Homo sapiens: one gene and its partners. The protein of the gene in region 7 interacts with the protein of the main gene of each other region in a biochemical or structural test. Each region holds a gene or a part of one and is shown on either strand. Other genes may lie near its edges.

Region 1 (3,500 bases), about 55 Mb from region 7:
GGCCAGGGGTTCAAGACCAGTCTGGCCAACATAGTGAAACCCTGTCTCTACTAAAAATATAAAAAATTAGCTGAGCACAGTGGCGCACGCCTGTAATCCCGGCTACTTGGGAGGCTGAGTCAGGAGAATCACTTGAACCTGGGAGGGAAAGTTACAGTGAACTAAGATTGCACCACTGTATTCCAGCCTTGGTGACAGAGTGAGACTCTGTCTCAAAAAAAAAAAAAATGTTTAGACTTACAGGAAAGTTGCAAAGATAGTAGTGTTCCTTTACACATGGTACCCAGCTTCACCGAAGGTTCACATCTTACGCTGCTGTGTACATTGGTTGTAGCTAAGGAACCAGCACGGGTACATCACTATTAGCTAAACGCCACTGTTCCTTTGGCTTTGCCAGTTTTCCTCTAATGTCCCTTTTCTGTTCCAGCTCGCCCCCCAGGATACCACATGAGGTTTAGTCGTTACGTCTCCTTAGGCGCCTCTTGGCTGTAACAGTTTCCAACCCTCTATTGCTGATAGCCTTGGCAGTTTTGAGGAGTACCAGTCAAGGATTTTGTACAATGTCCAGGGACACCTTTTTGCCTTCACATTTGGGTGTCATGTGGGCTGGTAGCAGGTCACTCTGAGATCCTTGAAAACTCTGACTCAGACTGGCATTGACAGATTGGTGTTTTATTTCCAGAGGGCTCAAAACCTTCAGAGAATTTCTCTGCACCTCCTGTGCCTTGGTGATATTTTGCAAGTTAAAAAGAATTTGTCCTTTGGCAAAACCCCATTGCTACAAAAAATACCAAAATTAGCTGGGCGTGGTGGTGTACGCCTGTGGTCCCAGCTACTCTGGAGGCTATGGTGGGAAGATCGCTTGAGCCCAGAAGACCAAGGCTGCAGTAAGCCAAGATCGCACCACAGCACTACAGCCTGGGTGACAGAGCGAGACCCTGTCTCAAAAAAAAAAAAAAAAAAAAAAAAGTTCTTTTCCTTCACAGCTGGCTTAATTCCTACTGTGCTGTTGAGGCTGAAAGGTCACTGTGTTCTACTCACCTGCCAGGCTCCATCTTTGACTCAGGTATGCATGACAGGACCATATGGCTTTCATCTAATTGCTCTCTCTTTGGGATCCTGTTACGTGGTAGGGCCTTACTCTAGAGCATGAGCAAAACCGATGTGATACTGGCCCTGAGGGGCTCACGATGTGGGTGGAGGAAACCTATGGTTACTCTTTCATTCATTCGACAGATATTTATGGAGCACCTACTATGTGTTAGGCACATGCTAGGTTCTGGGGGACCAGGCGGGCCTAGTGGAGGCTGTTGAGGAAATAAACCCACAGATGAGCATGGAATTAAAAATGGTAAATTGTGTTCTAAAACTGGTAAACTGTGTTCTAAAGGAAAAGCAATGGGGTCTCTGGGAGGATAACTGAGGGGTCCCGGTTTGGCGGTTTGGGAGAGTCATCCAAGAATCCTTTGAAGTAACGTTTTCAAACTGACTGTGGCGTAACATGCAGACCTGGAAGTGCGTGAAGTATGAGACACATCTGAAGCTCTGTGTTTCCGTGTGTGTGCAACGCAAGTGACCAGCACCCCAGAGGGCTCCTTCATGCCTCCCCCAGGCCAGTGCCCTGTACCCCCATACATACCACCTCTTATCACCACAGGTTCGATTTCTCTGTTCTTGAACATCATGTGAATGGAATCACACAGTAGGTTGCCTTTGTTTTATTTTATTATTTTATTTTGAGACAGGGTCTCACTGTGTCACCTAGGCTGGAGTGCAGTGGTGTGATCATGGCTCGCTGTAGCCTCAACCTCCCAGCCTCAGGTTATTTTTGTGCCTCAGCCTCCCCAGTAGCTGGGATCACCGTCACGTGCCACCACTCCCAGCTAATAAATAGGTTGCCTTTTATTTCTGGCTCCTTTTGCCCAGCATAATGTTTTAGAGATTGATCACATTGATCGTACATGTCAATAGTGTCTTCCTTTTTTTTTTTTTTTTTTTTTTTTTTGAGACAAGGTCTCGCTCTGTCACCCAGCTGGAGTGCAGTGGCTCGATCTCAGCTTACTGCATCCTCTGCCTCTTGTCCTCCTGGGCTCAAGCAGTCCTCCCACCTCAGCCTCCCGAGTAACTGGGACCACAGGCACGTGCCACCACACCTGGCTAATTTTTGTATTTTTTGTGGAGATGGGATTTCACCATGTTGTCAAGGCTGGTCTCGAACTCCTGGGCTCAAATGGTCCCCCCACTTCGGCCTCCCAAAGTGCTATGATTACTGGCATGAGCCACCACGCCCAGCCGGGTTTGTTTCTTTTGAGTACTGAATAGATTCCATTGCACAGCTGTCTCCATGTCCCACAACTGGTTTATCCCATCCTCTGTTGATGAATATTTGGGTTGTTTCTATTTTGATTTATGAATAAGGCTGTTATGAAGTTTGCATCTAAGTCTAAATATGGACACACATCCTTTCATTTCTCTCAGGTGGATTCCTAGAAGTGGCATTGCTCAGTCATAGAGTAGGTACATGTTTACTTTAGAGAAATTGCCAGACTTTTCCCAAAGCAGCTGCACCATTTTGTGTCCCACCGGCAGTGGGCGAGAGTTCCGGGTGGTTCCACTTCCCCACCAACACTTGAGCACTTGGTGGGTTTTTTTGTGTTTTGTTTTGTTTTTGTTTTGAGACGGAGTCTCGCTCTGTTGCCCAGGCTGGAGTGCAGAGGCACAATCTCGGCTCACTGCAACCTCCGTCTCCTGGGTTCAAGCTGATTCTCCTGCCTTAGCCTCCCAAATAGCTGGGATTATAGGCGCGTGCCACCACACCCAGCTGATTTTTGTATTTTTAGTAGAAATGGGGTTTCACCATGTTAGCCAGGCACTTGGTGTTAAGAGTCACCGGTGGCTGCGTTCCTGGATCTCAAGGTGGCTTTACTTTGCGTTTCCCTGATGACTCATGGAGGTTAAGCACCTTTTCATATGTTGATTGGTCATCGGAATTTGGTCGTTTGTGAAGTACATGTTTTTATTGTCTGTCTAGCCTTTTTTAAATTGATTTGTAAAAGTCGTTATATATTTTGGACAATTTCTTTGCGTTTTAAAAGTCATTTCCTACCTTTATGGCCTGGCTTTTCATGAAAAGCAGTTTTGTTTTTTTTTTTTCTTGAGATGGAGTCTCACTCTGTTGCCCAGGCTGGAGTGCAGTGGCGCAATCTCGGCTCACTGCAACCTCTGCCTCCTGGGTTCAAGTGATTCTCCTGCCTCAGCCTCCCGAGTAGCTGGGATTACAGGCGCATGCTACCACGCCTGGCTAATTTTTTGTATTTTTAGTAGAGATGGGTTTTCGCCATGTTGGCCAGGCTGGTCTTGAACTCCTGACCTCGTGATCCACCTGCCTCAGCCTCCCAAAGTACTGGGATTACAGGCGTGAGCTACCTCACCTGGCCTCAATTTTTGTATTTTTAGTAGAGATGGGGTTTCACCATGTTGGCCAGGCTGGTCTTGAACTC
Region 2 (3,500 bases), on a different chromosome or scaffold from region 7:
ATCATTCTGTCTTACTCCAAGTGAGTTTCTTCATCTCAACAACAGCTTTAGATGAGAAGAACACAATTACTCCCTTGATGGATGTAATCAATTAGCAGTGATTGGTATTTTCAGAAGTCATCACTCATGAGAACATAAGGTCAGCCAAACAGATAAGACTTAACTGTCACCTCTTAGAAAAGCATTTATTTAAAATGTTTCTTTAAAAAGAAAGTGTTCTTCCCAGTGAGAAAGGAGATTCCATGTCAAGATATTCTGAGGCTGAGTCTATCACTAGGCCAAGACTGAATGACTACAGGAAGAAAAAAAAGACAAAACTGTCAAATGAGTTCTTCTCTGAACAACTAGAGCTAACAGAGCTGAATCCAAAGACTATGTCTCCCTGTCCCTCTGTCAAGGTCCCTGAGTATGGACCAATAAAGGAAGGCACAGGAGGGTGGGAAGGCTTCCCAAGGAAATCAGGCTGCTCGGCCCATCCAGGGGTGGGCCCTGTCCCTTAGGGGATAGCTTCCAGATGTGTGGGGGCACCTGACAATACCTGTTCTGCTGCAAATACTTATTGAGGGGACCAAGTTCTGCCATCTCCATAACCAGCATCCAGGACTCGGCCTCGCATATCCCGATCATCCGCACGATGTACGGGTTGTCCAGCTGCTGCATGACATTTGCTTCTGCTAATAACTCATCTTTAAGAGCGGGGTCATTGGCCTCGTTTTTCAGTATTTTCACAGCCACGGTTTTCACAACTCTGCAAGAGAAATCATAACACACAAGAAACTTTCCAAAATGCCTCACTTCTAGATAATCTTATCCTGTGAAGCATAATCCCCCTGTGGAAACAGTCCCACGGAAATACCTGCCACAGAGTGGCAATGTGTCTTCAGAAGCCTGTAATGGATGGCTGGCCTTCCAACCTATATTCCCTTATTTTATAGACAATGAGAGTAATACTCCATTACTAAAAAAGAATGGTGGGGGCTGGGCATGGTGGCTCATGCTGACAATCCCCATACTTTGGGAGGTTGAAAGGGGAGGATTGCTTGAGGTCAGAAGTTCAAGGTCAGCCTGGGCAACATAGTGAGACCCCCATCTCTAAAAAAAATCACCCAGGTGTGACAGTGCAAGCCTGTAGTCCCAGCTGCTCGGGAGGCTGAGGTGGGAGAATCACTTGGACTCAGGAGTTCAAGGCTGCAGTGAGCTTCTTGCCACTTCACTCCAGCCTGGGTGACACAGTGAAACACTGTTTCTAAAAAATAATATAAAATAAAAAGAATGGTGAAGAACAGTACTGAAGAATGTCCCAACCAAGCAAAAACCCTAAACTGTAAAATATTTAAATAACTTGTAAATAAACTTCACCAACGATGACATGTACGAATTCCTGTAACATCTTGGGATTCACCATCTCAGATTACATGTAATGAATGTGAATATAAAATGCCTTTCATAATTGTTGAAAGTGAATTTCTAGGTGCAGAATTTAAAAGCATATATTTCAATGTAATACATTGAAAAGGTAAACAACTCTCCTGAGAGAGGCTGAAGAAGACCTGGTAAATGGAGAGATGGGCTGTGTTTATAGATTGAAAGACTCAGTATTGTAAAGACATCATTTTGCCCCAAATTGACCGAGAGAGCCTCTCCTCTCCCCAAATTCTCTAGTTGAAATTATGTCCACAGTCATGTCTATGTTAATTCACAAATTTAAGCACAGAATAAAGATCACAACCTTTCATAATCTGAAAAAGCTTAGGATTAATACAGAAACATTTTTACTCATTGTACAAAATGACTGTGATATACAAACATATATTTTAAAATAAGTATCACAGCCAATTTTGATTGTGTGTGTATATATGTGCGCATGTATATACTTGTGAATGTATACATATGTGTGTATGTTTGTGTGTGTATACATACATGTATGTGTATCTAATTTACACACACACACATGCACAAAAACAAATCGAAGGGACAGATTGGAAAGCAAGCATTTCTTTTTTCTTTCTTTCTTTTTTTTTTTTTTTTTTTGAGGCAGAGTTTCACTCTTGTTGCCCAGGCTGGAGTGCAATGGTGTGATCTTGGCTGGCTGCAACCTCTTCCTCCCAGGTTCAAGTGATTCTCCTGCCTCAGCCTCCTAAGTAGTTGGGACTACAGGTGTATGCCACCACACCCAGCTAATTTTTTGTATTTTTAGTGGAGACGAGGTTTTACCATGTTGGCCAGGATGGTCTTGAACTCCAGACCTCAGGTGATCCACCTACCTTGGCCTCCCAAAGTGCTGGGATTATAGGCATGAGCCACGGCACCCGGCCGGAAAGCACGCATGTCTGTGTATATTTTTGTCTATATTTTTAACCCTTGAATCATAAAAATTACCTACTCACGAATTTTTTTTTTACAAAAATCCCTTACATTTGAAATACCATGAAGCTACTAAATCTAACCACATTCATATTAGTATCATACCAATTCAAACAGAGGGTGTATTTCAAAGGACTTTAGAAACCAGTAGTTTTACTTGTACATTCTATGTTGGGTACCTTCTAAAGACCAAAAGAAATACAAAGATATTTTCGAAATTTAGCAATTTTAACTGTTGTATAATATGTATTGTTATCTGAAATCATAGGATAAAGCCAATAAATAATTATACTAATCATATTTGGAATCAATAATTTTCATGTAAGAAAAATGAGATGTAACTATAAAATTAAAGAAAATAAATGTAAAAACTATTGTTATAATGGAATGATTTTGTTTTAATTAAATAATATCTGTGTGTACAAATAAAGATCTAAAAATATATACAATAAGATTAAGTTAACAGTAGTAATGTTTAGTTAACAGTAGTAGTGTTGGGATGGTATTATACAAATATGATGTTCTTCTTTTCTTTTTTTTGTTTTGTTTTTTGAAACAGGGCCTTGCTTTGTTACCCAGGCTAGAGTGCAGTGGTGCAATCATGGCTCACTGCAGCCTTGGCTTCTTGGCCTCTTGAGCAGCTGGAAGTATATGTGTGCACTACTATGTCTGGCTAATTTTTTATGTTTTATTTATTTATTTATTTATTTATTTTTTTTGTAGAGACAGGGTCTTGCTATGTTGCCCAGGCTGGTCTCAAGCTCCAGGCCTCAAACAATCCTCCTATCCCAGCCTCCCAAATTGCTAAGATTACAGGCATGAGCCACCATGCCAATTTGATGTTTTTATTTTCTTATGTTTCTGCTTGTTTCTATTTCCTAATTTTCCATAAGGTGCATGTACTATTAGGTTGGTGCAAAAGTAATTGCAGTTTTTGCCATTAAAGGTAATGGACGCTTTCATTATAATAGTACCAGAAATTAACAAGAATGGTAGCATTAATAAAAAAAGGGTTTAGTCATGCCAGGTTACATTTTGTTATTCTCAGTCATGTCTAGAACCTGAGCTCATGTGAGGGTGAGGCTGGTGGAACATAGCAACTTACTTTTTCATTTGGTAGTAGCCCTTTTTCACAG
Region 3 (3,424 bases), on a different chromosome or scaffold from region 7:
AGTGTTTGGAGAACAGGCTGGGGGCTGGGATTGCAGGTTCTCCCAGGTCTCAGCCCGGCCAAAGGGGTCTGCTGGGTTCCTGCGGAGAAGGTGCCAGCCCCACCTCCACCTCTAGTGCTCGTCTTTGCCTGCTGTCCTGTCTTTACTTGTCTTGAGTGTCTGTGCAGCCCCTATAAGTGATAAGACATGGGTGAGATTGGCCTTGCCTGGGGGTACCAGGTGCCCTCAGACAAATGGGTGGATAGGACAGGTGCACAGTAATGGATGATGCGGCCCCCGCACAGTGCTGAGAGAGAGTCATTCAGTCTGAATGTGGAAGGCCAGGAAGGCTTCTCAGAGGAGGTGGCTCTAGCACTGGGGCTTCAGGAAAGAGTTGGGCAGGAGGATGGCCTGGGGAGGGTACGCAAGGTTTGGGGGCTGCTGGGGCCAGGACCCCTACCCCAGGCCCTGCTCTCCCCCTTGCACTGCAGCGGAGCCCGCTCTCCTGCCTTTCTGACTCCCATCCTTCCCCACCTCCTTCTCCCCTCTGCATCACTCATCACTTGGGCAGGCCAAACCTCGCCAAGTATGAACAGGCTCTGGCAACTGGGTCTGGCAACAAAGTGCTGGAAAAACCCGGGGCACAGCCCAGCGCAGTGAGTGCCCCACACGTGGAGGCAAAGGAGTGGGCCTTTGCCCTGACCCTGAGGGCTGAGCCTGAGAGTCTGTGGGTTGTGAAATCTGTTGTGACCACCAGGCTTGTGGTGGGTGGACCCTCAGCTCTTCCTGTGAGCAACTTTGTGCTAAAGAAAGAGCACTGGAGCCGGGCGTGGTGGCTTACGCCTGTAATCCCAGCACTTTGGGAGGCCAAGGCGGGCGGATCAGGAGTTCAAGACCAGCCTGGCCAACATGGTGAAACCCTGTCTCTACTAAAAATACAAAAATTAGACGGGCGTGGTGGTGGGCACCTGTAATCCCAGTTACTCGGGAGGTTAAGGCACGAGAATTACTTGAACCCAGGAGGTGGAGGTTGCAGTGAGTGGAGATGACGCCGCTGCAAAAAAAAAAAAAAAAAAGGAGAAAAAAAACAGAAAGAGCACTGGACTTGGAGTCTAAACACAGGTTCTACTCCCGACTCACCTGTGACTGAGGGCAAGAATGCTTTCTTCTCAGAGACTCGGTGTCCCCTTTTGTAAAATGAGGCTCATTCTGTCCTTCCCCAAGGGCTTCAGGGAAACTCCAGTTAGAGCAGTGAGGTGCTAGGTAAACTCTGAGGGGCACCCTAACCGCCGTGTGAGGTCAGGAGGTCTGAATTCTCTCATCCCCTCTCCCCAGGACAAGGGCACACAACTGGTTCCGTTAAGCCCCTCTCTTGCTCAGACGCCATGGAGCTGGATCTGTCTCCACCTCATCTTAGCAGCTCTCCGGAAGACCTTTGCCCAGCCCCTGGGACCCCTCCTGGGACTCCCCGGCCCCCTGATACCCCTCTGCCTGAGGAGGTAAAGAGGTCCCAGCCTCTCCTCATCCCAACCACCGGCAGGTACGATGGGGCGTGGGGCTTGGGGGAGGTCAGTGCTGGATAATACACAGAGGCTTGCAGGCCACTGCTCCCTTCCCCACACCTCTCTCCCTTTTTCTTCTTGCCACAGGAAACTTCGAGAGGAGGAGAGGCGTGCCACCTCCCTCCCCTCTATCCCCAACCCCTTCCCTGAGCTCTGCAGTCCTCCCTCACAGAGCCCAATTCTCGGGGGCCCCTCCAGTGCAAGGGGGCTGCTCCCCCGCGATGCCAGCCGCCCCCATGTGAGTTGTCCCTCAGAAGGGAAGGGAGGGATGCACGGGTTCTGGGTCTGTGGGAGATACACAGCCGCTTCCATGGAGGCAGGGGATCTTGGTTAGGAGTCCCTGAGGGTCTAGCAGGTGCGGAAAGGGAATGAATCACCCTTTGCCTCCCCTCAAGTCGTGTGCAATTCCTGGGGCGCAGGTAGTAAAGGTGTACAGTGAGGATGGGGCCTGCAGGTCTGTGGAGGTGGCAGCAGGTGCCACAGCTCGCCACGTGTGTGAAATGCTGGTGCAGCGAGCTCACGCCTTGAGCGACGAGACCTGGGGGCTGGTGGAGTGCCACCCCCACCTAGCACTGGGTAAGTCAGGTGCATGGAACTATCCGGGCTGGGAGATGATGCCTTGCATCTTGGGCTAGGCATGTGGCTCATCCAGGAGATCTGGTTGATCTCCAATAACCCCTGCTTTTTGCCCTTGTCCCCAGAGCGGGGTTTGGAGGACCACGAGTCCGTGGTGGAAGTGCAGGCTGCCTGGCCCGTGGGCGGAGATAGCCGCTTCGTCTTCCGGAAAAACTTCGCCAAGTACGAACTGTTCAAGAGCTCCCCAGTGAGTGCATGAGGGCTGTCTGGGCGCTGGGATGCCCTGATCCTCAACCTGGATGCTGGAGCCCTGATCCCTGACACTTGTCTACCCACAGCACTCCCTGTTCCCAGAAAAAATGGTCTCCAGCTGTCTCGATGCACACACTGGTATATCCCATGAAGACCTCATCCAGGTGGGGGGACCCCCCATTTCACTGCAGATTCACGACTCCCCAGCATTGGCCAGTGCTTCTCCACCCTTAAGTCCTGTGCCTCCCCTCTATGTTGTAGAAAGAGCCAAATCACAGTCCTGTGTGACTGGGGACAGTCACTTTCCCTGCCTGAGCATCAGTTTCTTCTATTAAATGGGGGCGAGAAATGCATGTGGAGCATTTCCTTGTAAAAACCTGAGGGTGGGCTGGGCACGGTGGCTCATGCCTATAATCCCAGCACTTTGGGAGGCTGAGGCGGGAGGATTACTTAAGCCTAGAAGTTTGAGAGTTTGAGACCAGCCTGGGCAACATAATGAGACCTCGTCTCTCCAAAAAAAAAAAAAAAAAAAAAAAAAAGGCCAGGAATGGTGGCATGAGCCTGTAGTCCCAGGTGCTTGGGAGGCTGAGGTGGGAGGATCACTTGAGCTCGGGAGGTCGAGGTTGCAGTGAGCTGTGATCGTGCCACCGCACTAGCATGAGACCCTGTCTCAAAAAGAAAAAGAAAAAGAGAAACATCCTGGTGGTAGAGGGGAAGGGAGGAGGTCAGACCTGTCACTCTCCTCTGCTCTCCTCTGGCTCAGAACTTCCTGAATGCTGGCAGCTTTCCTGAGATCCAGGGCTTTCTGCAGCTGCGGGGTTCAGGACGGAAGCTTTGGAAACGCTTTTTCTGCTTCTTGCGCCGATCTGGCCTCTATTACTCCACCAAGGGCACCTCTAAGGTAAGGTCTTGAGGGTACCAGCCCCAGCCCCTCCAGTCCCTGGTCCTTTTAGAAGTTGCCCCTTCTCTGCTGGAACCTCTGAGCCCTTCTCCCCCTGGGCCCCCCAGGCCAGCCACCTCCAGTTTACCATCTCTCCCTACATCCTTGCCTAGCT
Region 4 (3,500 bases), on a different chromosome or scaffold from region 7:
CTCACTCTGTTGCCCAGGCCGAAGCACAGTGCTGCAATCATAGCTCAATGCAGTATTGAACTCCTGGGCTCAAGGAATCCTCCTGCCTTAGCCACCTTAGTAGTAGTACAAGCACATGCCATCATATCGGGCTAATTTTTTAACTTTTTTGTAGAGTGCCGTCTCGTTATGTTACCCAGGCTGCTCTCAAACTTCTAGGCTCAAGTGATCCTCTCGTTTCAGCCTCCCAAAATACTGTGATTACAGGCATGAGCCACTGCACCCAGCCCACATTTTTTAATGACTCACTTTCTCCAATAAATCAGAGTAGATTCAAGTTTATACCCATAATGATGTCACTCTCAATCATCTGCATTCTAATATGCTTTCTTGAATAGGAGAGAGACTGAATTAGAGCTCGCATGCTAGAAAACTGCACAGTGGAATATGTCATACATGTAAATATCTTGTACCTGGACGGGAAAAAATATAAGAAAACTGACTTGGATCACAAAAATCTGTTTTACTGCTGGATGAGACCATATGGACTCTAGTTCAACTGCTAAGTCAGTTCAGTGCTTGCTTCTCTACACAGAATAACCATAGGCTGGTCTGCCCATTTAAACTGTATGTTCTTTAAGAATTAGAACCCTGTATTTACAGAACACACAATCTGAAACAGGGATATCTGTAAAATACTGCTCCTTAAAAAATAATCATACGTTTCAGTAGGAGGTGGAAAAGACACAACTAATATACAAATAAGGGTATTATTAAATTTAAAAATGAAGTTTAAATTTTAAACAGATTGAGAAAATGTGTTTGCGGGGGCACTAGTTAGAGATTTAAGACAGTAACGTGTAGCTAATACCTGTGGTTTAAATGAAAGGAATTTAGGGCAACCATCCAAAAACACATGATCATCTAGGCAAAAAGAAAAATAAATCAGGAATCCAGACAAACTGGAGATATTTTGGAGTTAAAAATCATTTAAAGTAAATTTATAATTATCCCTGCTGAGATACAATAAGCTAAGATTTATAAAAAGAACAGCTAATCTGAGATATTTCTAACTATTTATTTGTATAAATGCAAATGTCATTCAACTTAAGTAAATTTATTGTAAATTTAAATTTAAGTAAATTTAATTATATTTTAATTTCTTATGTCTGAAACAAGGACTTTGTGGATGGTATAATAAACACATTAATACAAGGAGAGATAAAATCAATGTTATCACATAAAGAACTGAATACAGAAGCTGAATACTTCCTAAAGTCAGTTTAATACTTCCTAAATCTTACCTACATTGTCTCATTTCTTCTATGTAACAAGCTAGTGAAGCAATTTTACTATCCCTATTGAATAGATGAGAAAATTATGACTTAAAGAGATAAAATAACTTGTCCAAGATCCCACAGAACAGAAACTGGAACTAAAACCCGATTATCTGACTCTAAAATAAATGGCTCCTCTTTTCACTACACTTTGAAACCTAGCAAGGAAAACCTACATAAAATGTCCAGTCTTTTAATACCTACTAAAAAAAGTGACAATATCAAGTTTATAATGAATGGTGATGATGAATAAAAATTAGTAATTGTCTGATATGAATATTTTTAAAATAATTCCAAACATGCATGACATTAAATTTTTAAAGCTGAATTATGTAATATCCTCCAAAAATGAAGAAATCTGAACTATTTCTTGAAAAGAACCAAGAAAACTTTGTTTTACCTAGATACTTTGAATTCCAAAGAAAAAATATGGCCTCATATTTTGTCAGCCATACAGCAGTTTTATATGGTAAACTAAAATATTTATACTTACAGAATAAGAAACAGTAACTGCTTGGGTCTAATTCCTCTGTTCTGACTCTAATCTGTCCTCTATTTATTCTTTTCCATTTTTCCCCCAGATCTAGGAGCCCTCTTCTAATTTAAGGTAACAGCCTCAAGTTCAGGAACTCTTACAAATTTTGATGTGAATGCAGATACACTGAAATGAAAACCATAAAATCTCAATAATTGGTAGAGTGTTACAGAAGAAATCAAAGTTTGTTAGTTTTCAAATCATTATGGTAGAATGATGAGTGACTTCATTTTCTTCTCTATAGTTTTCTGAATTGATTGTAAGGCATTTAACATTTATAATCAAACAAAAATAAGAAAGAAAAGGAGTAAAAAAAGGGAAGGAGGAAGGGAGGGAAGGGAAAATTGGAGCCTTGATTTTAAAAAATCCAATTGTTTCTGAGTTCACTGAATCTACAACTAAAGTTCTAAAACTGTGACCTAATTGTTTCCTTCAGTCTCTCAATAGCATGATAGGTTAACCATACATAAGCATACCAAAGACAAATGAAATTTGGAAAAATAGTAATAAAGCAATCCAGAGATCTATAAATTCTGAGACATAGCCCTTAATATTTAAGAAATTACTATATGAACGAGGTAAGTATGAAAAACAGATTTAGGGTATGCAAAAACTAAAAAGCAAGATTCAAATACTTAAAAAGGTGTACACAAATTTCTCGGGTATAGAAAAATTACAAATATACAAATGTGTGAATTTATACCCATTTCCACTTATTCCTTTACTATAAATTGAAGTTTTATATCAAAATATTCCTCAGAACCATGAGACAACACCCAAGATCGTTGAGTCCTATCGAAATACTGACTTAAATTTCTCTAATTACGTCAGTCTCCATGAAGCAGTTCTACTAAAAAAAGTTCACCTTTGTAAGCTTTTTCCATTACAAAAATACATTCTTATTCCAAATGAACAGACATAAGATTGACCCAATTTATCAAGTTACCAAAATTTTACATAATTGATAGTCCCTTGGACTTCCCTCCAAAAGATGTTTATTTATAAATCAAGTACAAAACTATAATCTATTTACACAGGAGTCCAATTTTGAAGCAAAACGTTTTTTTGTATAACAAGTTCATCAGATTTCCTTTTGTCTGATTACCAAAATGCAGTTTACTTATTTGGGCCTTGATTACAAAGATGATGACTTCCTACCTCACTCACAAGATTGCTTTGAATAGTCTCATGTAATTAAGTTAGTATAGTTTTAGTAAGTACAATTCCCACTCACAAACAAAAATAAGCACCTTATAATTTGGTGGTGTGTATATACATGTATACTACATATACATGTATATACATATGCTGGGCTTTTTGTGGTTTTTTTGTTTGTTTGTTTTTTGTTTTTCTGAGATGGAGTTTCGGTCTTGTTACCTAGGCTGGAGTGCAATGGTGTGATCTCCACTCACCACAACCTCCGCCTCACGGGTTCAAGCGGTTCTCCTGCCTCAGCCTCCCGAGTAGCTGGGATTACAGGCATGCACCACCATGCCCGGCTAATTTTGTATTTTTATTAGAGACCATGTTTCTCCATTTTGGTCAGGCTGGTCTCGAACTCCCGACCTCAGGTGATCCGCCCGCCTCGGCCTCCCAAAGTGCTGGGATTACAGGCATGAGCCACCGCGCCCGGCCACATACGCTGGTTT
Region 5 (3,500 bases), on a different chromosome or scaffold from region 7:
TATGTTGGGCTTCTTTTCAAAACTTAAAAAAATTTATTATTATTATTCATTTATTTATTTACTTTAGACAAGGGGTCTTGTTCTGTCACCCAGGCTGGAGTGCAGTGGTGCAATCGTAGCTCACTGTGGCCTTGAACTCCTGGGCTCAAGTGATCCTCCTGCCTCAGCCTCCCAAGCACCTGGGATTATAGGCATGCACCACCATGCCCAGCTAGTTTTTATAATAATAATAATAATAAGAGGCTTGCTTGAGGTGATGGATAGCTCATTTATCCCTTTTGTGATTATTACACATTGTATGCCTCTATCAAAATATATCATGTACCCCATAAACATATATACTTACCAGATACCCATAAAAGTAAATAAATAAATAAGTAAATAAATAAATATACAAAATTAGCCGGGCGTGGTGGCACATGCCTGTAATCCCAGCTACTTGGGAGACTGAGGTAGGAGAATCGCTTGAACCTGGGAGGCAGAGGTTGCGGTGGGCCGAGATCGTGCCATTGCACTCCAGCTTGGGCAACAAGAGCAAAACTCCGTCTCAAAAAAAAAAAAAAAAGAAAAGAAAAGAAACAGGAGTCTAGGGCTGGGCACAGTGGCTCATTGCCTGTAATCCCAGCACTTTGGGAGGCTGAGGTCAGGAGTTCGAGACCAGCCTGGCCAACGTGGCAAAACTCTGTCTCTACTAAAAATACAAAACACAAAATACAAAAATTAGCCAGGCGTGGTGGTGCACGCCTGTAGTCCCACCTGCTTAGGGAGGCTGAGGGAGGAGAGACAGAGCTTGCAGTGAGCCCAGATCACACCACTGCACTCCAGCCTGGGCAACAGAGCAAGTCTAAAAAAAAAAAAAAAAGGAAAGAGAGAAAAGAAACAGGAGTCTAGGCTGGGCATGGTGGTTCACGCCTGTAATCCCAGCACTTTGGGAGGCTGAGGTGGGTGGATCACTTGAGGTCAGGAGTTCAAGACCACCCTGGCCAACATGGTGAAACCCCCATCTCTACTAAAATTACAAAAATTAGCTGGGCGTGGTGACACATGCCTGTAGTCCTAGCTAGTCAGGGGGCTGAGGCAGGAGAATCACTTGAACCTGGGAGGTGGAGGTTCCAGTGAGCCAAGTTCACACCACTGAACTCCAGCCTAGGTGACAGAGTGAGATTCTGTCTGTTTTTTTTTCTTTTGAGATGGTATCTTGCTCTGTCACCTAGGCTAGAGTGCAATGGCGTGGTCTCAGCTCACTGCAACCTCCACCTCCATGGTTCAAGCAATTCTCCTGCCTCAGCCTCCCAAGAAGCTGGGATTACAGGCGCGCACCACCACGCCCAGCTAATTTTTGTATTTTTAGTAGAGACAGGGTTTCACCATGTTGGCCAGGCTTGTCTCGAACTCCTGACCATGTGATTTGCCCTCCTCAGCCTCCCAAAGTGCTGGGATTACAGGCATGAGCCACCGCGCCCAGCCGAGACTCTATTAAAAAAAGAAAAAAGAAAGAAACAGGAGTCTAAAGCAAAGGAGATTAATTACCCAGTCCCATTCTTCCACCTTCCAAAGCAGGAGTTGGTAGGACAGAATTGTGCACTGGTGAAAGTGTTTCTAAGCACTAAACTAAGCTAACATTCATGTGAGCTTATGAGAAATGGATGAAGAGCCCCATTTGACAGAAGAGGAAAAGTGAGGCTTAGGAGGAATGATTTCAGCAAAGTCACACAGTAAGTGTCAAAATTGCTATTTGAACTTAGGTCTCTAACTATGGGGACAGTCTTCTGAGTTTTGCTAATGAGAAACTTCCACTGCTCCCTGCTTCCACTTAGACCCAGCATGAATTCTCTCTCTCTGTCTCTCTTTTGTTTTTTCTTTTTAGACAGAGTCTCTGTCACCCAAGTTGGAGTGAACAGTGCGGTGGCAGTGGCAGGATCTAGGCTCACTGCAACCTCCACCTCTTGAGTTCAAGCAATTCTCCAGCCACCATGCCCAGCTAACTTTTTTTTTTTTTTTTTTTTTGTATTTTTAGTAGAGACAGGGTTTCACCATTGTTGGCCAGGCTGGTTGTCTTGAACTTCTGACCCCAGGTGATCCACCCACCTTGGCCTCCCAAAGTGCTGGGATTACAAGCATGAGCCACCGTGCCCAGCCTGCTCTTTTGAGATGGAGTCTCGCTCTGTCATCCAGGCTGGAGTGCAGTGGCTTGATCTCGGCTCACTGCAACCTCTGCCTCCCGGGTTCAAGTGATTCTCCTGCCTCAGCCTCCTGAGTAGCTGGGATTACAGGCGTGTGCCACCATGCCTGGCTAATTTTTGTATTTTTAGTAGACACGGGGTTTCACCATGTTGGTCAGGCTGGTCTTGAACACCTGACCTCGTGATCCACCCGCCTCAGCCTCCCAAAGTGCTGGGATTACAGGAATGAGCCATCGTGCCCGGACTTTTTTTTTTTTTTTTTTTTTTTTTTGAGACGGACGGAATCTCACTCTGTTGCCAGGCTGGAGTGCAATGGCGCAATTCCGGCTCACTGCAACCTCTACCTCCTGGGTTTAAGCGATTCTCCTGCCTCAGCCTCCTGAGTAGCTGAGATTACAGGCACCTGCCACCAAGCCCGATTAATTTTTGGATTTTTAGTAGAGGCAGGGTTGCACCATGTTGGCCAGGATGGTCTCGATCCCTTAATCTTGTGACCCACCCGCCTTGGCCTCCCAAAGTGCTGGGATTACAGGTGTGAGCCACCGCGCCTGGCCTTTTTTTTTTTTTTTTTGAGACAGGCTCTCGCTCTGTTATCCAGGCTGGAGTGCAGTGGCACAATCGTAGCTCATTGCAGCCTTGAGCTCCTGGGCTCAAGTGATCTTTTTGCCTCAGCCTCCCAAGTAGCTGGAACTACAGGCATGCCCCATCACACCTGGCTAATTTTTTGATTTTTTTTCTAGAGATGAGGTCTCACTATGTTGCCCAGGCTAGTCTGGAACTTCTGAGTTTGAATGGTCTTACTGCCTCAGTCTCCCAAAGTGCCGCGATTACAGATGTGAGCCACCACGCCCGGCCAGCAACTCCAGCTTTGCTCTACTCCAAATAGGTTGTGTGACTTTAAGCATACCTCTGTGGGCCTCAGTTTGCTCATCTAAAATCAGAGGTTTAGCCAGGTATGGCAGCTCATGCCTGTAATCCCAGCACTTTGGGAGGCCAAGAAGGAAGGATCACTTGAAGCCAAGAATTTGAGACCAGTCCGGGCAACATAGCAATACCCCCATCTCTAGAACAAATAAAAAATCACCTGGGCTCAGTGGTGCCAGCTACCCAGGAGGCTGAAGTTAGAGGATCACTTGAGCCCAGGAGTTTGAGGTTCCAGTGAGTTAGGATTGGGTCATTGCACTGCAGTCTGGGCAAGAGAGTGACACTTTATCTCAAAAATAAATCAACAAATAATAAAATTGGAGATTAGGCTTGCTGGTTTCTAAGACCTTTGCAGATGGGAGACTCTATGCATTAACACTGCATGTTCCAGTT
Region 6 (3,500 bases), on a different chromosome or scaffold from region 7:
TGGCCTTGGGTAAGCAATGTAACCTCTCTAATCTTCAATTTCCTCATCTGTAAAATGGGGATCATAAAAAAAAAAAGTAGGTGGTTTTGAGAACTGTATGAGTTAATAAACATAAATCTTTTAGCATAGTATCTGATATACAGGAAGCTCCTGTTAAATGTTAGCTTTTTCTGTTAACATGCTGCCTTGGATTTAATTCTTACAGAGTCATTTACTGCCACCAAAGTATAAGATACACCGGTAGTTTTGGGGAGATAGATAACTAAGATAGGATTCTTGCCCTTAAAGGGAAAAAATACGTATTGGAGCACAGACCTATAAACAACATACATGAAATAAAAATTAAGTGGAGAACAATGCCGCACACGGTGGGAATGCAATGGAATGAACAATGAAATCTAAAGGATCAGGAAAGGATCCCAGATGACCTGACATTTGACCTAGACCTGTAAACAAATAGGCATTCCACAGGGAGAAAATGGGAGAAGGTTCCCAGGTAGAGAGAACAGCGGGTGCAAAGAGACATGGTGACTCCACAGGTAATAAAGAAACGGAATTAATTAATTTTCAAGAAATTGCCCTCGGAAGTAGACTTACCGCTTCTGCACTGAACAGCAACAGCAGCAACAGAAAACCGACTGGATGGTGTTATCTGAAAAGCAGATCATTTCTCAGCTGTTAGAAAGCCATGAGTACGTGATATTGAGGGAGTCTCTAAGGGAAGGGTGAGACGAATTATTATAAAGCGTATGAAAGTCTCGATCGTGCCTTCCTTCACTAGTGGAAGACAAATAACTGTCACTAAAGCAAAAAATAAGTTTCTGGCACCTTGGCCAGTGTGGTTTCCCTTCTCAGGCTCTTCTCCTCTGGCCTGGTTTTTGCATTTCCTCAGTCTGTGAGTGATAAATGACCAGTGTATTCTCTTTTACCTTTGTCAGGGCTAATGTTCGCTAACAAATATACAAGAGAATAGGATTCCAGAAGTGATGCTCTCCTAGGAAATCTGTTAGCAGGGATTTTGAATTAGATCTGTCATATTTTTTTAAATTGAAATGTTTAAAACATAGGCTCTTTTTAAAAATTCCATCAACATTTCAGTGGGATTTTTATTCTTTTACGTATTTATTGTAATTAAAAATTGTTCTAAACCTTAGCTGCATGTTAGAATTATCTGAGGAGCTTTAAAAAAAATATTCTGGTGTACAGGTCATACCCTGCATACCCCAGACCAAAAAAATTAGACTGTCTGGGGAGGAATCTAGGTATTGGTATTTCTTTCTTTCTTTTTTTTTTTAATTTTACTTTAAGTTCTGGGATACATGTGCAGAACAAGCAGGTTTGTTACATAGATATATATGTGCCATGGTAGTTTGCTGCACCTATCAAACCATCATCTAGATTTTAAGCCCCGCATGCATTAGGTATTTGTCCTAATGCTCTCCCTCCCCTTGCCCTCCACCCCACAACAGGCCCTGGTGTGTGATGTTCCCCTCTCTGTGTCCATATATTCTCATTGTTCAACTCCCACTTATGAGTGAGAATATGCAGTGTTGGGCTTTCTGTTCCTGTGTTAGTTTGCTGAGAATGATGGCTTCCAGCTTCATCCATGTCCCTGCAAAGGACATGAACTCATTCGTTTTTATGGCTGCATAGTATTCCATAAAACATAGGCTCTTACTATGGAATAAGCTTAAAGATAAACTGAATATTTGAAGAAAGAACTAGCTAGTAAGTCTAGGTTATGCCTAGACTTTCATTGTCAAGCTTCATCTTTATTGAAGTGAGATGATTTTCCTTTTTAAAGACCATAAATAAGCCAAGGGTGGTGGCTCATGCCGCTAATCCCAGCACCTTGGGAGGCCGAAGCAGGCAGATCGCTTGAGCCCAGGAGTTCGAGATCAGCCTGGGCAACATGGCAGAACCCCATGTCTACCCCAAAAAACTTTTTAAAAAAATTAGCCAGGCATGGTGGTGCATGCCTGTAGTCTTCAATACTCAGGAGGCTGAGGTGGGAGGATCCCTTGAGCCTGGGAGATGGAGGCTGCAGTGAGCTGAGATTGCACCACTGCACTCCAGCCCTGGTGACAGAGTGAGACTCTGTCAAAAAAAAAACATAAATAAATTTTGAATTTCAAAAGGATATTTTATTTTCATAGAACCTACATTTCCCCATCAGCTCATACTCATATTGACATCCGAAAATATTCTGGAGGCAGCAGAGTACCTTAGAGGTGAGCATTCACTTTGAGGGGAGACAGACCTGGGGTTTAGCCCTAGTCACCTGGCTGACTACATCTTGGATAAGTCCCTTTACTTCTCTAAGTCTTAGTTTTTCTAACTGTAAAACTGAGGTAAATAGTATGTACTCCCTTTGAGAAGCCCTATAAATGTCTAACTTTGTGACTTTGAGTAAACTAGTAAATGTTCTGTGCTTTAGTTTCCTCGTCTGTAAAATGGGAATAATAGGATGCCTAACATGTAAGCCAACGGTGAGGACTAATTGAGTCGATTCATGTAAAACTCCTAGACCAATACCAGGTATACAGTAAGAGGGTAATCAAGAAGGCTGATTATAATAGGATCGTGGTGAAGAATCAATCAGATAACATCTTTTAAAGTCCCTGGATCATAAAGGTAAGTATTATCAGTCAGGATCCCAACAAGAATCAGAAGGCACACTCAAACTGGGATATGTTGAGAAGGATTTATTTATAAAAGGAAGTATAGAGATGTAGGCAGAGTGTAGTAAAACTACAAGGATAGTGCAGGAATCCAGAGCTGAGCCATCACCACACCTAACCAAGTGAGGAGGGAAGGGAAGGTTACCAGAACCTAGAAGGAGAGGGTATCTGTGGCCCAGGCCACCTGGAAAAGAGCATGTATCATCCATCCAAGGACACAGACTGCCCAAGGAGACTTCACAGCAAGAAAATCAGGAGGATAAATATCCTTACTCCACTGTCCTCCCTCCCTCCTTGCTGGGCTCTCCATTGGCCTAACCCAGCAGGAAGCCAGATGGTTGTATGTAAATCACACAGCAGCAAACAGCAGGCTGGTGAAAGGCAGAGAGTGGACCGGCAGGGAGAGAGGCAGACAGGAAACATCCAGCACAGTCCACCCCTCAGCATCCATTTTTTGTTTCTTTTTTTTCAGACAGAGTCTCACTGCGTCGGCCAGGCTGGAGTGCAGTGGTGCTATCTTGGTTCACTGCAACCTCCTCTACCTCCCAGGTTCAAGTGATTCTCCTGCCTCAGCCTCCTGAGTAGCTGGGATTACAGGCATGTGCCACCACACCCAGCTAATTTTTTGTAGTTTTTAGTAGAGATGGGATTTCACCATGTTGGCCAGCCTAGTCTCGGACTCCTGACCTCAAGTCATCCGCCCAACCTGGCCTCCCAAAGTGCTGGGATTACAGTTATGAGTCACCGCGCTCGGCCCATCCTAAAGTGGAAATCATATATGCCCTCTTCCATTATCCATTCCATTTCCCCTTTGCCACT
Region 7 (3,500 bases):
AGCCGGGCATGATGGCACACACCTATAATTCCAGCTACTCAGGAGACTGAGGCAGGAGAATTGCTTGAACCCGGGAGGCAGAGGAGGCGGAGGTTGCAGTGAGCCAAGATTGCACCACTGCACTCTAGCCTGGGGAACAGAGTGAGACTTTGTCTTAAAAAAAAAAAAAAAGTATATGGGGAATTTTATACCATTCTTGCAACTTTAGTGTAGATCTAAAATTATGTCAAAATAAAAAATTAAAGGAAAAAAAAAAACAGGTGGTCATAGTGGGTTTTTTTTACACACACACACACATTTTAAATGCTGTCCTATAGACTAGAAAGTCCCTTTGTTCTTTTTGCTCCAAGGAGCAGAATGAGTGAAAACAGCTAAAAGTCATGGGGAGACAGAATTTTCTTTTCTTTTCTTTTTTTTTTTTGAGAAAGAGTCTCGCTCTGTCGCCAGGCTGGAGTGCGGTGGTGTAATCTCGGTTCACTGCAATTTCCGCCTCCTGGGTTCAAGTGATTCTCGTGCCTCAGCCTCCTGAGTAGCTGGGATTACAGGCATGTGCACCACCACACCCAGCTAATTTTTGTGTTTTTAGTAGAGATGGCATTTCACCATGTTAGCCAGGATGGTCTCGATCTGACCTCGTAATCCGCCCACCTCGGCCTCCCAAAGTGCTGGGATTATAGGCATGAGCCACCGGGCCCAGCCTGGAGACAGATTTTTATCCAAATCTAAGGAAGAACTTTTACAAAACTTTAAGAAGGAGGTTGGGTGCTGTGATCCCTAGCACTTTGGGAGGCCAAGATGGGAGGATTGCTTGAGCACAGGAGTTCGAGATCAGCCTGGGCAACATAGCAAGACCCTGTCTCTACAAAAAAATACAAAAAAATTAGTCAAGTATGATGGTGTGTGCCTATAGTCCCAGCTACTTGGGATCACTTGAGCCCAGGAGGTCGAGGCTACAGTGAGTCGAGATCACGCCACTGCACTCCAGCCTAGGTGACAGAGCAAGACCCTATCTCAAAAAAGAAAAAAGAATAAAAAAGAAAACTTTAAGAAGGAGGATATGTTGTTCCTGTCCCTTGTTCCTTGGCAGGGCGATATTGAATTGCTCAAAGATGTTCCTGAGGGGACCGAAGGCCTGGATGGAGGATGTGTTAAGCATTCTTTCAGGTCCTTTGTAACAGGCTAGAATTTTATGACTTTGATTCCTAGTCAGCTCCACATAGGAAAGTTTTGGCCAATGAAATGAACTGTGAGGGGTGCGTGGGCTGGGGTCTAAGGAGGGAAGGCAGGATCTCTAACCCATTGAGGCCGGTGATCAGAAAGTCCAGGTTGCCCAGGATCTTGGTGCAGTTCACAAATCCATCAATGTTGCTCGAGTCCACAGTCTGGAAGCGGCTCCCAGAGCCTGTTCCCTCACAGGCTGCAAATGTAAGAGAGGTTCAGTGGGGGTGGTCTGCGCAGGCTCAGAGGAAAGGCTGTCTCTTTACAACTTCTTACCATCTCCTACCCACCTTTGGGACATAGTCCCCCACAAGGCTCACACATCTTGAGCCCATTTTTATCTACTTCCATCTTGTCAGGAGGACAGGCCCTGACACAGGATGTTTGATCCACCACAAAGTTATCTAGGGAAGAGGAGGAGGACACCATTAGAGATGAGGGAGGAACATCACCAGCTACCAATGGAACCCTTGCTCTGGGCCTAGGCTCCCTCCAGCTCTGCACTGGATTTGTCCCCATCTGCCACCCTAGATCCCTTAAGTGCTGCCCTATAGATTCAAAAGTCTCTTCACTATTTGTTGCTACAAGGAGCAGAAGTAAGGGTGATAGCTGAAGTCATGGGAGGACTGGACGTAAGGGTCACTCACTGGAGTGGTTAGATGATCATAACCATTCACCAATCTCCCTATTTATCACCAACTGGATTCTTTTTCCCTTCCACAATTTTGTCTAAAATCTTGGATCTACTATTGTTGATCATTGTTCCTTCCCCTCAGACACTTACGGGGACAGCTGGCTACACAAACTCCTCCATACTGATACTTGGTGTGGGGATTGGGTTCCAGCTGGAAAGTTAGCTTGTTGTAGACAAGAGGCTGTGGACAGCGAGGTACACAGGCTCCACTGTCATTGAAGTGCCGGCAGGCCTGGGAAAAAAGGAGGCTCATCAGATTTATGTTACGTGTGTACCCCTACCTCCTCCTCAAAGGCCACATCCCAATTTCAGAACCCAGGCAATGGAAAGGGTACATACAAAGCAGTCTGTGTCCTGAGGGCCTGAGCAGCCCCCGGCACACTCATCATGGCAGCACTGGTTGGGGTTGGGCCCAAAGCAGTGACCATTACACTGAGGAGCACAGATGGTCTTGGTCACTATGGAAGGAGAGAAAGCATGGCTGTTAGGGCTCCTAGGACTGAATTCTGAGGCCACTGCTCATGCCTCCCCCACAGTGTTGACCCAGGCTTGGGGAGGAAGGGATATGAAAGCGTATGAGTGAAGTTTTTGGAGGGAATTTCAAACCCACATGTCTGGCAGTCTTCTGATCCAGGACCCCAGCATCGCCCCTTGCAAACCTCATGACAGGGGGGACCTGGTTGGGAAGGAAGGCAACACAAGGGGCCATCAGGGCTAAGAAAGGCTTGTTTTAATCAACGGGGTATGATGTCAGTACACAGGCACCTCAATCCCGGGAAGCAAAAAGCCAGGGCTGTGTCCCTCCCTGCCCTTGGAGAGCAGGGCTGGGCTCAAGTGGACCTGTCAACAAGGGGCGCGGCCACGCCTCCACACCACCCACTGGGCAGCTGAAGGGGAGGGACTGGGGCAAATGCCAACCTTAGTCCTAGTCCCAACCCAGGAACTTAGTTCCTCCTGGGCAAACTGAATATATGCAGGAATATATGCATGTGAATGGTCAGGGGAAGGTGGGCTCCAAGGAAATGGGAGTATATTCTAGTGGAACGAGTAACAGATGTGGAGTCTAAAGATCTGGCTTCCCTGCTTAGTACTCAGGGATTTTTTTTTTTTTTTTTTGAGACAGGGTCTCACTCTGTTGCCCAGGCTAGAGTACAATGGCACAATCACAGCTCACTGCAGCTGCAGCCTCCTGGGCTCAAGCAATCCTCTGCCTCAGCCTCCTGAGTAGCCGGGATTACAGGTGCGAGCCACTACGCCTGTCTGATTTTTTTAATTTTTTGTAGATTTTTTGCTATGTTACTCAGGCTGGTCTTGGACTCCTGGGCTCAAGCGATCCTCCCACCTTGGCTTCCCAAAGTGCCAGGATTATAGGCATGAGCCACCATGCTCGGCCTGCTCCTTTTCTTGAAACACCTCCTCTGTGGTTTAGATTCCAGGAGACTGGAATGGTCTGCCCTGGTGGGCTGCTGAGTCAGGGACCTGAGGTGTTTGTTCACTGGGGAGGCGGGTTCAGATCAGGAATGTAAGGATGATGGAAAGAAGGGAGTCACTCTGGTTTGGTGGGACTGGGGAGCAATCTTGATCACGG

Evidence for each region.
Region 1: the proteins of ERBB3 (region 7) and SH2B3 form a complex in vitro, tested with the Homo sapiens proteins (2 studies listed by BioGRID and IntAct, with this or other methods).
Region 2: the proteins of ERBB3 (region 7) and SYK form a complex in vitro, tested with the Homo sapiens proteins (2 studies listed by BioGRID and IntAct, with this or other methods).
Region 3: the proteins of ERBB3 (region 7) and GRB7 form a complex in vitro, tested with the Homo sapiens proteins (2 studies listed by BioGRID and IntAct, with this or other methods).
Region 4: the proteins of ERBB3 (region 7) and FER form a complex in vitro, tested with the Homo sapiens proteins (2 studies listed by BioGRID and IntAct, with this or other methods).
Region 5: the proteins of ERBB3 (region 7) and LCK form a complex in vitro, tested with the Homo sapiens proteins (one large-scale study listed by BioGRID).
Region 6: the proteins of ERBB3 (region 7) and TXK form a complex in vitro, tested with the Homo sapiens proteins (2 studies listed by BioGRID and IntAct, with this or other methods).

The regions. Positions count from the first base shown.
Region 1 is NC_000012.12:111,419,423-111,422,922, forward strand, and holds part of SH2B3 (SH2B adapter protein 3), read left to right. Parts: intron 1-986; exon of another isoform or gene 987-1,066; intron 1,067-3,500. UniProt on the Homo sapiens protein: Links T-cell receptor activation signal to phospholipase C-gamma-1, GRB2 and phosphatidylinositol 3-kinase.
Region 2 is NC_000009.12:90,874,819-90,878,318, reverse strand, and holds part of SYK (tyrosine-protein kinase SYK), read right to left. Parts: coding exon 3,470-3,500; intron 749-3,469; coding exon 539-748; intron 1-538. UniProt on the Homo sapiens protein: Non-receptor tyrosine kinase which mediates signal transduction downstream of a variety of transmembrane receptors including classical immunoreceptors like the B-cell receptor (BCR).
Region 3 is NC_000017.11:39,740,938-39,744,361, forward strand, and holds part of GRB7 (growth factor receptor-bound protein 7), read left to right. Parts: intron 1-1,314; coding exon of another isoform or gene 1,315-1,364; coding exon 1,365-1,519; intron 1,520-1,628; coding exon 1,629-1,779; intron 1,780-1,960; coding exon 1,961-2,117; intron 2,118-2,242; coding exon 2,243-2,364; intron 2,365-2,455; coding exon 2,456-2,533; intron 2,534-3,132; coding exon 3,133-3,270; intron 3,271-3,424. UniProt on the Homo sapiens protein: Adapter protein that interacts with the cytoplasmic domain of numerous receptor kinases and modulates down-stream signaling. Promotes activation of down-stream protein kinases, including STAT3, AKT1, MAPK1 and/or MAPK3. Promotes activation of HRAS.
Region 4 is NC_000005.10:108,750,897-108,754,396, reverse strand, and holds part of FER (tyrosine-protein kinase Fer), read right to left. Parts: intron 1-3,500. UniProt on the Homo sapiens protein: Tyrosine-protein kinase that acts downstream of cell surface receptors for growth factors and plays a role in the regulation of the actin cytoskeleton, microtubule assembly, lamellipodia formation, cell adhesion, cell migration and chemotaxis.
Region 5 is NC_000001.11:32,268,265-32,271,764, forward strand, and holds part of LCK (tyrosine-protein kinase Lck), read left to right. Parts: intron 1-3,500. UniProt on the Homo sapiens protein: Non-receptor tyrosine-protein kinase that plays an essential role in the selection and maturation of developing T-cells in the thymus and in the function of mature T-cells. Plays a key role in T-cell antigen receptor (TCR)-linked signal transduction pathways.
Region 6 is NC_000004.12:48,113,751-48,117,250, forward strand, and holds part of TXK (tyrosine-protein kinase TXK), read right to left. Parts: intron 653-3,500; coding exon 598-652; intron 591-597; exon of another isoform or gene 1-590. UniProt on the Homo sapiens protein: Non-receptor tyrosine kinase that plays a redundant role with ITK in regulation of the adaptive immune response. Regulates the development, function and differentiation of conventional T-cells and nonconventional NKT-cells.
Region 7 is NC_000012.12:56,086,665-56,090,164, reverse strand, and holds part of ERBB3 (receptor tyrosine-protein kinase erbB-3 isoform 1 precursor), read right to left. Parts: intron 2,589-3,500; coding exon 2,523-2,588; intron 2,371-2,522; coding exon 2,252-2,370; intron 2,145-2,251; coding exon 2,003-2,144; intron 1,623-2,002; coding exon 1,509-1,622; intron 1,418-1,508; coding exon 1,297-1,417; intron 1-1,296. UniProt on the Homo sapiens protein: Tyrosine-protein kinase that plays an essential role as cell surface receptor for neuregulins.